Regions from separate parts of the Homo sapiens genome. Here region 2 is linked to region 1. The links come from fine-mapping of genetic effects on gene expression. A gene starts in region 1. The other region holds a variant in brackets. All regions are shown on one strand. Distances are between the middles of the regions.

The links. PIP is the estimated chance that this variant, and not a neighbour inherited with it, causes the effect.
Region 2: its variant is the best candidate, but not a certain one, in a credible set for the expression of RARA in whole blood (INTERVAL, PIP 0.80).

What each region holds. Positions count from the first base shown.
Region 1 is chr17:40,306,415-40,311,784 of GRCh38, forward strand. RARA (retinoic acid receptor alpha) reads left to right here and starts at 2,766. Exons shown (of 9, transcript NM_000964.4): 1 at 2,766-2,872. RefSeq lists enhancers at 2,193-3,078, 2,458-2,627, 2,638-2,767, 3,079-3,962.
Region 2 is chr17:40,374,225-40,379,594 of GRCh38, forward strand. No RefSeq gene overlaps it. Among named protein-coding and RNA genes, the nearest start is that of GJD3, 12 kb to the left of the region's middle. The variant C/T (reference allele first, on the strand shown) is at 2,822.

The DNA of each region.
Region 1 (5,370 bases):
TAAACGTTGGTGGTACTTTTGCACAGAGGTGGAGCAGGCCCCTGCATAAGAAGGGTGCTCTGTCTTACAAAATGTGTCTTGGCACAGTTTTGGAGCATTTATTAGCCTCACAGATGCATTCCAATCACTCCCTCTGATGTAGTGGCATTTTGCTTGAGGCAACTTCCATGTTGCTGGTGGGACGCTTTGGCTATGAGGGGAAGAGTCTTATCTACAGGCTGTGAAGAGGGCTGCCTGTCTGGATGTCACTCAGTGTGGCTAGATTGGCCAGAAGCTGGGTCTGTAGGCAAGGGTTTAGGGAGGAGCCCACCTTTGATGTCCCTCTTTTTAACTTGGGGCAAGTTGTGATCTCAGGTTCTTCCTGAAAAGATAAGGTACTTTCTAAGATACCTTCTCTTAAGCTACAAACAGTGCAGGTCTTCCTCTTAGAAGAGGTGTGTTCCGTAAGGGGAGAAGGTGTGCCCTCTGGCCTCCCCTTGATTTTCAACCCCAGCCCCAAGGCACTGGTAGTGGAAGTTAATTGGGTGCAAGGGGCTTGGGTAAAGGCTGAAGACTGGTGAAAGGAGAGAGCCAGCTTCGTTTTTTAAAAAGCTCTAATTGAGTTCTGAATCAGCCTCACTCCCTTTGATCCCTCCTCTGTTTCCCACACTGCCTGAAAGAGCTAGATCAGCACTTTATAACAAGGGTGCGCCTGCTCCCCGCACCGCCCCCCGCTCCTGACGCTCTCTGCTGCCGCCATCCACTGCTTGTCTCCTTCAGTTAAGATAATGAAGATGCTGAGAGATAAAATGTGTATTTAATAAGGGTGGGGGTAGGGAGGCGGAAAGGGGCAACCAGGGCCTTCCCTAGTTTGGGGCCTCGCCAAGACTTAAGCTGAAAGCAAAGCTAGAGTAAGACTTGGCCCCAGGGTGTGGGGGTTTCTGGGCCTCAATCCAGCTGACTTCACTGCCTGCTGTTTGCCCTAAATTCCCCCACCTCCACCCTCTCACCCCCACACTGCTTTCTTCTTGCTCCCAATGGGAAAAAGGACTCTTGCTTCAACTTTCTTTTCAGCTGGTAACTTGGCCTTTGGTGCGGTGCCCCCCACCCCAGTGTCAGCTGCAAGGTCGGGCTAGGGCAGCCCCCTCTAGCCTAGGCCTGTAGAAGCTGTGGGTTCACAGTGGGGGGTGAAAAAGCTGGAGTTAATGAAGACCAGCTGCTAGTCTGGGTTCTGCCTACAGCTAGCTGGAGGCCAGCCTTTGGTGGTGGTTGATGGGGGGGTGGGGTGACCTCCATCCATGGGCACAAGGATATCCTGTGGCAGCTAGGCTTGTGCTTCTCTCTGAGCTTAGTTTTATCCTTAGTTTATAAGAGAGTATCTGTTTCCTTCCCCTACTCCTCTCCTCCCCAAATAACACTCAGCTCTTATTGAACTTTATAACTGTAGTGGTGGCCCAGCTGAGATCTGAGGATCTCCAAACCCTTTTGTAAACACTCATTAACTGCCTGGGAAGAACGAAGAGCCCTGTTTAACAGCTGGGAGAGAACTGAGGCACATTAGGGTGAAAGGTTTGACCTAAACTCACCCCATGGACTCCACCCTGGGGCCTTCCATCCTTAGTCCAGCTCCTTTACTCAGTTCTTCCTGCAAGACAGAGGTGGAGGCATTGCTGGTGTCTTCTCCCCTTCTAGGGAGAGGCCATGCCCTCTCCCCTCAAGTCTGTCGCTGACTTCCTCTGGCCCTTCCCCTCATGACGTTTTCCCTGCTCTGCTGCTAGAGATATGTGCAACTCTCCTTGCAAAATGTTCTCAATCCACAACTTCAGAATTCTTATCCAGCTTTCTCTTGCCCATCTAGCCCACCAAACCTGAATTCTCCCTTTTGAGCTACTGAGAAGACTGGCTATACTAAACTGAATCAGTGACCTTGAAGTTGATCTGTTGTATTGAGGTCCCTCTGCCCCTATATTTATCCTAAATGGTATCTAGGAAAATATTCTCTCTTTAACTTGTTTATTCTGGTCATAAAGATTCGGGACATTACTGAGGGCTGGGTAGGGGCACTAGTTGACCTCTAGGTTCTACGTCCTGTTCTTCCACTGACAATTACCATTTCCAGTAATAGGTGTAACCCAAAGTTCTTTTTTGTTTTTTTCTCCTTCCCTAACCCCACCTGTTTATACTCTTGCCTATATATGTGTATTTGCAGACCCCACACATTCCCAGATACACATACATTGGTCCTACATGTTTCCCCTGTTTCCAGCTGCCATCTAAGTGAGCCTGCACTTTTTACATGCTGAAAATCTTTTTTCACCCTCTATGGCCTCCTAGGTCCTTGGGAATAATTGGGAGGGATGAAGGGACTCCTGCAGTCCATGAGGAAGAGGACAGAAGTGAGCGCCCAACCAAAATGAATGCTCCCTTTCCAAAATCTCTAGCTGAATGCCTTAGCAGGAGTGGCAGGGAAAGAGATCTTAACCCCACCTCCAGCACCAAAACCTAAATCCATCTGCTCAGGGCAGGCAGGAAGAAATGTCTATTTTCTCCTGTTTCAGGTCATCCTATCCTCGAGTTATCCATATGCTGTGTATTTGAGACAGGGAACTGTTCCTGTCCCCAGCCGATGACCAGACGCCCATCTTTCTTCCAGTGGGTTACTTCTCCCCCATCAGTCCTTCGCTCTGCGCCCGCTGACCCAGTCGGGGCTGGCTGGTGGAAGAGGGCGGGGAGAGCCTTCTAGTTGGCGAGTGGGCTTTAGGACCCAACGGGAACCCGTGCCTCTTGCAGCAGCCTAACCCAGAAGCAGGGGGGAATCCTGAATCGAGCTGAGAGGGCTTCCCCGGTTCTCCTGGGAACCCCATCGGCCCCCTGCCAGCACACACCTGAGCAGGTAGGACCATGCACACCCCTTCCCAATTCTTTGGCCGCCTTTGACCCCGGCCTCTGCTTCTGATCTAGCCATTTCCTTCTCGCCAGTTCTGGCTTTCCCCATCCCTCCTCTCCCGTCGCTCACTGTAGTCCTGGGAGGTGGGAGCCTGGGAACAGTGGGGTGTCTGAAAGCTCAGAGCCCTCTGCACCCTCCAGCACCCTTCCTGCATTTCTCCTGAGGCAGTTCCCGTTCTCTAGATAAGAGTGGGGAGTAGGGGGAAGGTCTGCCCAGGCCCCACGCCCTTGCACCCTCCTTTGCGGTATTGCCTAATACCCCTTCCCCCACCTCACCTAGACTGGAGAATTGGCAAGTGCTGAGGTAACAGAGAGAGGAGAGAGCCAGAGAGGGACCTGAGCTTTCCCAAGGGATTTCTTTCTTGCTTCCTCACCCAAAGAGCTCAGGACTTTGCCCCTACTCCCTACACACCTTGTAGGGGAACTAATGTCCCCTTCCAGGTTCATCTCACACTTGGGTGGCTAAAGGCTTTGCTAGAGGGTAGTGGAGGTTGTGAGCATTTTGGTGAGCTTTTCCTCTAGGAAAGTTCTTTCAGCTTAGAGCCCCCATCCATGTCAACATTTCAACACCTGCTGCAGAAGCCCCCCGACCCCACCTGTGTGTGTGTGTGTGTAGGGACAATGTGGTTGTAAGATCTAGAAGCTTTGGATAGAGGTGGCTGCATGCATTGAAGGGGAGGGATACCAGAGTGTGGCCCAGGCCAGAACAGGCTCAGTCCAGATGGCTAGGGAAGGGGGTGTGGACCAGATTGAGGAGGTCACCCAGCCTTGCCAGCTCCCTGAGCTTCTTGGCTTTCAGAATCTCAGGCTCCTGGTGTTTCTCTAGAGCTACAAGGTCCCCAAGCTTCTGCCCCGCTACAGGCTCTCTGGGAGAGGGCTAGATGGCACCTACTGTTTACAGTGGCTTATTTTTCTCTCCTGTGGTGGGCAGACAGGCCCTGCTCTCTGAAGATCTAGGGCGTGTCATTCTGGTTTGGTGGGTTTACAGGAAGGGTGTACACCTTGTCTGACTTACCATGTGTGAGTGTGTGTCTTGCTTCTGGGGGTAGTAGACTGGGGAGGGGGGTGATAGAAGAGACTGGTCACACTGAGGGAACTCCTCTAGCAATCAATGTATGATAGGAATGGGTGGCATGTCCCCATCTGGTAGCTCTGTCTAGGTGTGGGGTGTGCTCTGCATTCTTCCATGGCTCCCCGGGTCCCCTAAAGGTTGGTTTTAGAGGACAGGGTGGATAATGAATTGGCTTCAGACTTCGTTCTGGTCTTGATCCAACAAGGAAAGTAGAGATTCTGACTGTGAGCAGTGAACTAGGAATCAGAGGCCTGAACTGGAGACTTAGACTGGTTACTTAACTATATGTGTTTATATAGGTCTTCCCCTTTGCTAAGCCTTAGTTTCTCCATTTGTAAAAATGGCTATCAGTAGCAAGCAGGGACATTGCCACTAAAACCACAGAGACAATGTATCGTAAAGCTCACTGCAAACGGTAGTAATGGCTGGGGGAATCTAGGATGGAATCCTCTTCCTAAATCTAGGTCAATCTCTCCGCCTTTAGTTTTCTTCCCCCATCCTTTGCCCATCTGGGGGATGGAGGAACTAGGCAGGGCTATTGCCCCGGTTACTGCAGAATTCCCCTAATGCAGGTTGTAGCTGTTACCAGAGCACCTGTGGTCACAGAGTACAGATCTCTCCACCAGGCATTTCTTCCTCTGGGGCCCCATACTTGCTCCCCTGAGCCATGTCTCCACCTTCCTTCTGCCATCCCTGCTTGGCGTCCTTGTCTCTCTCTCCCCTGCCCAGTGGCCTCCTTGTCTGGCTCACTGGGCAGGAGCCCTAATCGGATTCGACAGCTGAGATATGTGTGGCGGCTAAGAGCAGGCAGGAGGGAAGCCAGTGGGAGGATGGTATGAGGACTGCCCCTGGCACTGCCCCGGCCTCCCAAGCACCACCTTGGGCCTGCTGATTTCTTACTTGGCTTGGCCCCAAGGAAGGGGTGCCAGAGGAAGCTCAGGAATGAACAGGCTGGGGTCTGGAGACTAGGAGAGGAGGAAACACACCAAGGTCCTCAGGACCTGGTTGATATTCGATGACCTTAATGTCAGTGTCACTGACTCTGACAAGGAGGAAAGGACAGCGATGAGCCAGGCTGACCCCCGCCACCCCATTCCCATAGCCCCACTTTCTTCTCTCTTCTTGTTCAGAAATGTTTCACTTTGCCTCATCTAGCCCCTTTGGCCAGTAGGTCACATCTGGGAGCTTCTGGGGGTGCCACATGTCTGCCTCAATCTGGGCTGTTTCCTCCCCTCCAAGATATTTCACTGTCTCTGGGCTGGGCGCCAGGACTCCTGGGTTTCCCTGCCTGTGGTGCAGGGCTCCCCTGCAGGGCTCCAGAGAGTCGCTTAGCTGGTTTCCTTCCTCCTTTGTGGGGAGGGCCTTCCCCTAGG
Region 2 (5,370 bases), 68 kb after region 1:
GGTGGCTCATGCCTGTAACCCCAGCACTTTGGGAGGCTGAATTGGGCGAATCACCTGAGGTAAGGAGTTCAAGACCAGCCTGGCCAACATGGTGAAACCCCATCTCCATTAAAATACAAAAATTAGCCAGGTGTGGTGGCGGGTGCCTGTGGTCCGAGCTACTCGGGAGGCTGAAGCAGGAGAATTGCTTCAACCCAGGAGGCAGAGATTGCAGTGAGCTGAGATTGCATCACTTCACTCCAGCCTGGGTGACAGAGTGAGACTCCGTCTGAAAAAAAAAAAAGAATGGGTGCATTTTATGTATGTAAATTACAACTCACGGTTGATTAAAAAGAAAAAAGCAATGCATATCTGTGCTGAAAATCATTGAGGTGACAATGAAAACAGAGAGTAAGACTTTCTCTAAGTCATCATTACACATCTCTCTCTCACCTCTCCGGTGGACTTCTTTCCTTCTTCTCCCCCTCCTCCTCCTTTTTGTCCTCCTACACTCCACACTGGTCACCCTCTCCTCTTTTGTTGACTGTCTTTTCCCTATTCTTTATGAAATAGGGTAATCTGGCTTGCTCCTGATGATGCAGGACAGGCAAGCCCCAAAAGTGAGGCTTAGCCCAAGAGAGTTTTTGGCTTTGCCCAGGAAAGAATTTAAGGGTGAGCTGGTGGTGTTAGCAATTTTTATTGACGCATTGATGCACAGCAGCAGCAGAGGTGCTGCTCCATGCGGAGCGGGGCTACCCCATAGGCAATGTGCCCAGAGAAGCAGCTCAGAGGCAGGTCTGCAGTCACATGCATACCCACTTTTAGTTATATGCAAATTAAGGGGAGGTTTATGCAGAAATTTTTAGGAAAAGGATGGTAACTTCCCGGTGGTTAGGTTGTTGCCATGGAAAGGGGCGGTAACTCCCCTGGGTGTTGCCATGGCAATGGGAAACTGACAGGGCCCACTGGTGGGCACTGACGGAAAGCTGCTTCCACTCATCCCTGTTTTAGCTAGTCCTCAATTTTGTCCGGTGTCCCAGGCCTGCCCGCAGAGTCGAGTCCCGCCTCCTACCTCACTATCAGTTTGAATTTCTAATGTTTGAGTTACACATTTTCCCCCCCTTTTTGTGGAGAATAGGTTCTAGCTATATTGCCCAGGCAGGTCTGAACTCCTGGGCTCAAGATATCTGCCCGCCTCTGCCTCTCTAAGAACTGGGATTCCAGGCGTGAGCCACAGCGCCCCGTGAGTTTCTAATGTTTGAAAGGGATTTTGAGCTCAAAATCAGTATCCTTGGGTTTGAATTTATTTACAGTTGATCAAAACTTTAAATTTTAAAAAATCCAATTTTTTCCTTTTAAGCCTTCAGGTCCAATTTACACAGTTTGTTATTCTAGTTATACATTTAATAATTTGGGGCCGGGCACGGTGGCTTACACCTGTAATCCCAGTGAGAGGTGACAGTGTGCTGGCAGCCCTTGCTCGCTCTGGGTGCCTCCTCTGCCTGGGCTCCCACTTCGGTGGCACTTGAGGAGCCCTTCAGCCCACCGCTGCACTGTGGGAGCCCCTTTCTGGGCTGGCCAAGGTCGGAGCCGGCTCCCTCAGCTTGCAGGGAGGTGTGGAGGGAGAGGCGCAAGCAGGAACCGGGGCTGCACGCTCGGCCCTTGTGGGCCAGCTGGAGTTCCGGGTGGGCGTGGACTTGGCAGGCCTTGCACTCGCACTCAGAGCGGCCTGCCGGCCCTGCTGGCCCCGGGCAATGAGGGGCTTAGCATCCGGGCCAGCGGCTGCAGAGGGTGTGCTGGGTTCCCCAGCAGTGCCGGCCCACTGGCACTGTGCTCCATTTCTTGCTGGGCCTTAGCTGCCTCCCCACGGGGCAGGGCTCGGGACCTGCAGCCTGCCATGCCTGAGCCTCCCCTCCTGTGGGCTCCTGTGCGGCCCAAGCCTCCTCGACGAGCACTGCCTCCTGCTCCACGCACCCAGTCCCATCGACCACCCAAGGGCTGAGGAGTGCAGGCACACGGCACGGGACTGGCAGGCAGCTCCACCTGCAGCCCTGGTGCGGGATCCACTGGGTGAAGCCAGCTAGGCTCCTGAGTCTGGTGGGGACTTGGAGAACCTTTATGTCTAGGCTAGGGGATTGTAAATACACCAATTGGCACTCTGTATCTGGCTCAGGGTTTGTGAATGCACCAATCGACACTCTGTATCTAGCTACTCTGGTGGAGACTTGGAGAACCTTTATGTCTAGCTAAGGGATTGTAAATACACCAATCATCACTCTGTATCTAGCTCAAGGTTTGTAAACACACCAGTCAGCACCCTGTGTCTAGCTCAGGGTTTGTGAATGCACCAATTGACACTTTGTATCTAGCTACTCTGGTGGGGACTTGGAGAACCTTTGTGTGGACACTCTGTATCTAGCTAATCTAGTGGGGACATGGAGAACTTTTTTGTCTAGCTCAGGGATTGTAAACGCACCAATCAGCACCCTGTCAAAAACGGACCAATCAGCTCTCTGTAAAATGGACCAATCGGCTCTCTGTAAAATGGACCAATCGGCTCTCTGTAAAATGGACCAATCAGCAGGATATGGGTGGGGCCAGATAAGAGAATAAAAGCAGGCTGCTGGAGCCAACAGTGGCAACCCGCTGAGATCACCTTCCACATTGTGGAAGATTTGTTGTTGTACGGTTTTCAGGTTGTACAGATCTTACTGCTGTCTCTCTTTGGGTCCACATTGCCTTTATGAGCTGTAACACTCATCTGGAAGGTCTGCGTCTTCACTCTTGAAGCCAGTGAGGCCATGAACTCACCAGGAGGAATGAATAACTCCACACGCGCCCC[C/T]TTAAGAGCTGTAACACTCACCGCGAAGGTCCGCAGCTTCAGTCCTCAGCCAGCGAAACCACAAACCCACCAGAAGGAAGAAACTCCAAACACATCCAAACAGCAGAAGGCAGCAGAAGGAACGAACTCCGCACACACTGTTTTTAAGAACTGTGACACTCACCGCGAGGGTGCACAGCTTCATTCTTTAAGTCAGTGAGACCAAGAACCCACCAATTCCGCACCCACCAGCACTTTGGGAGGTCGAGGCCAGCGGATTGTCTGAGCTGAAGAGTTCGAGATCAATCTGGGTAATACGGTGAAACCCAATCTTTACTAAAATACAAAAAATTAGCGGGGAATGGCGGCCTGCGCCTGTAATCCCACTCCGGAGGCTGAGGCGGAAGAATTGTTTGAACCTGGGCGGTGGAGGTTGCAGTGAACTGAGATTGTGCCATTGCACTCCAACGTGGGCAACAGCAAGACTGTCTCTCAACAAAATAATAATAAGAATAATCACTTTCACGTATTATCTAATTTTTAATTACCTCACTTTTGAGAAGTCAAATTTGCCTAAGCATAAAACATCTAATTGATTACATTTCTAAACACTTCTAATGCCTGAGGGGGCAGACGTGCAACTCTAAAAAAACAATATCTTCCTATGCATTAAAACAACTTGTAAAGCAAATAAACCAAATTTACCAATGTGGTAATTCATGTGCTTTTTTTTTTTTTTTTTTTTTTTTTTTTTTTTTTTTTTTTGGGGTTGGAGTAGCCTTGCTCTGTCTCCCAGGCTGGAGTGCAGTGGCACGATCTCAGCTCACTGCAACCTCCACCACCCACGTTCAAGCGATTATCCTGCTTCATCCACCCCAGTAGCTGGGACTACAGGCTTGCGCCACCATGTCCGGATGTCCGGCTAATTTTTGTAGTTTCAGTAGAGACAGGATTTCACCGTATTGGTGAGGCTGGTCTCGAACTCCTGACCTCAAATGATCCTCCCACCTCGGCGTCCCAAACTGCTGGAATTACAGGCGTGAGCCACCGCACCCCGCCCTAATTCAGGTTCTTTTAAGTTTTACAAAAATGTTATAATGTTTACAAATTTAATCAAGTTCCTTAAGCCTTTCAATGTTAAATCATACCTAGAAAATTGTGCATTTAAATTGAAAAAAACAGCTGGGTTCCAAGATTTGAGGGAGAGTAAAAACCAAAACCAAAAGAAACAGCTGGGTGTAGGCGTGGTGGCAAGTGTCTGTAGTCCCAGCTACACAGGAGGCCTAGATGAGAGGATCATTTGAGCCCAGGTAGTAGAGGCTGCAGTGAGCCATAGCCGTGCCATTGCATTCCAGCCCGGGTGACAGAGCAAGACTCTTGTCTCTTAAAAAAAATTGAAATTACAAGGCAAATCTGAAAGATTCTCTAATGTGACAGGTTGAAAGAATGTTACGTTCTCTTAAACATTAGAGACATTTAAAATATGCAATACAGACACATTATCCTGATGACTTTTAACACTAAATTATAAATACTATGGGTTTGATTACCTTATCATTTCCATATTATTTCTTTACCCTCAGGGATGTAAAGTCATCTGTCCCACTCCGAACAGTTTGACCATGTCAGGTGGACAGAGGATTTCTACATTAAAAATAAATGAAGACTGAGATTTAGGGTTAGTGATTCAAGGCTGAGATTTGGGACCAGGTTGCTGCTTTTTTTTTTTTTTTGACAGAGTCTTGCTCTGTTGCCCAGGCTGGAGTGCAATGGTGTGATCTTGGTTCACTGCAACCTCCGCCTCTTGGGTTCAAGCGATTCTCCTGCCTCAGCCTCCTGAGTAACTGGGATTATAGGCGCGCGCCACCACGGGTGGCTAATTTTTTTTTTTATTAGAGATGGGGTTTCACCATATTGGCCAGGCTGGTCTTGGACTCCTGACCTCGTGATCCGCCCACCTCAGCCTCCTAAAGCACTGGGATTAGAGGCGTGAGCCACCGCACCAGGCCCAGGTTGCTTCTTTTCTTGTAGTTGAGCCTGTCTGTTTTATCAGCAGCAGTCCCCAAGTTCACCCCTTTCAGTGGGAATTTGTTTTATAACTCACTTTGTCTAATTGTTCGCTCATGATTAGGTTCAAGTTAAGTCTTTTTGGCAAGGATACTCCATGAGTGATGATGTACGCTTCCCATTGCATCACATCAGGAGCACATTATGGCATTTGGTCTCATTACTGGTGTGCCAAGTTTGATCACTTAGTTAATGTGGTGTCTGCCAGAGCGCTCCACCTTTTCACTTTGTAATTTATCAAAGATGGGTTTTTATGTTCTCATATTTAGTCTTTTCATAGACTCTTTTGTCTAACAGAGACAATTATAAAGCACATAATTTGAGTTTGCACTCCCTGGATTCTACAACCACACAGATGGTAAGGCAACCATTTTTCCATCCAGCTCAAACTCCTGTTTCATCCGGCAAGAAAAGATACATTACTGGTTTTCTTTCTTTCTTTTTCTTTCTTTCTTTTTTTTTTTTGAGATGGAGTCTCCCTCTGTTGCCTAGGCTCGAGTGCA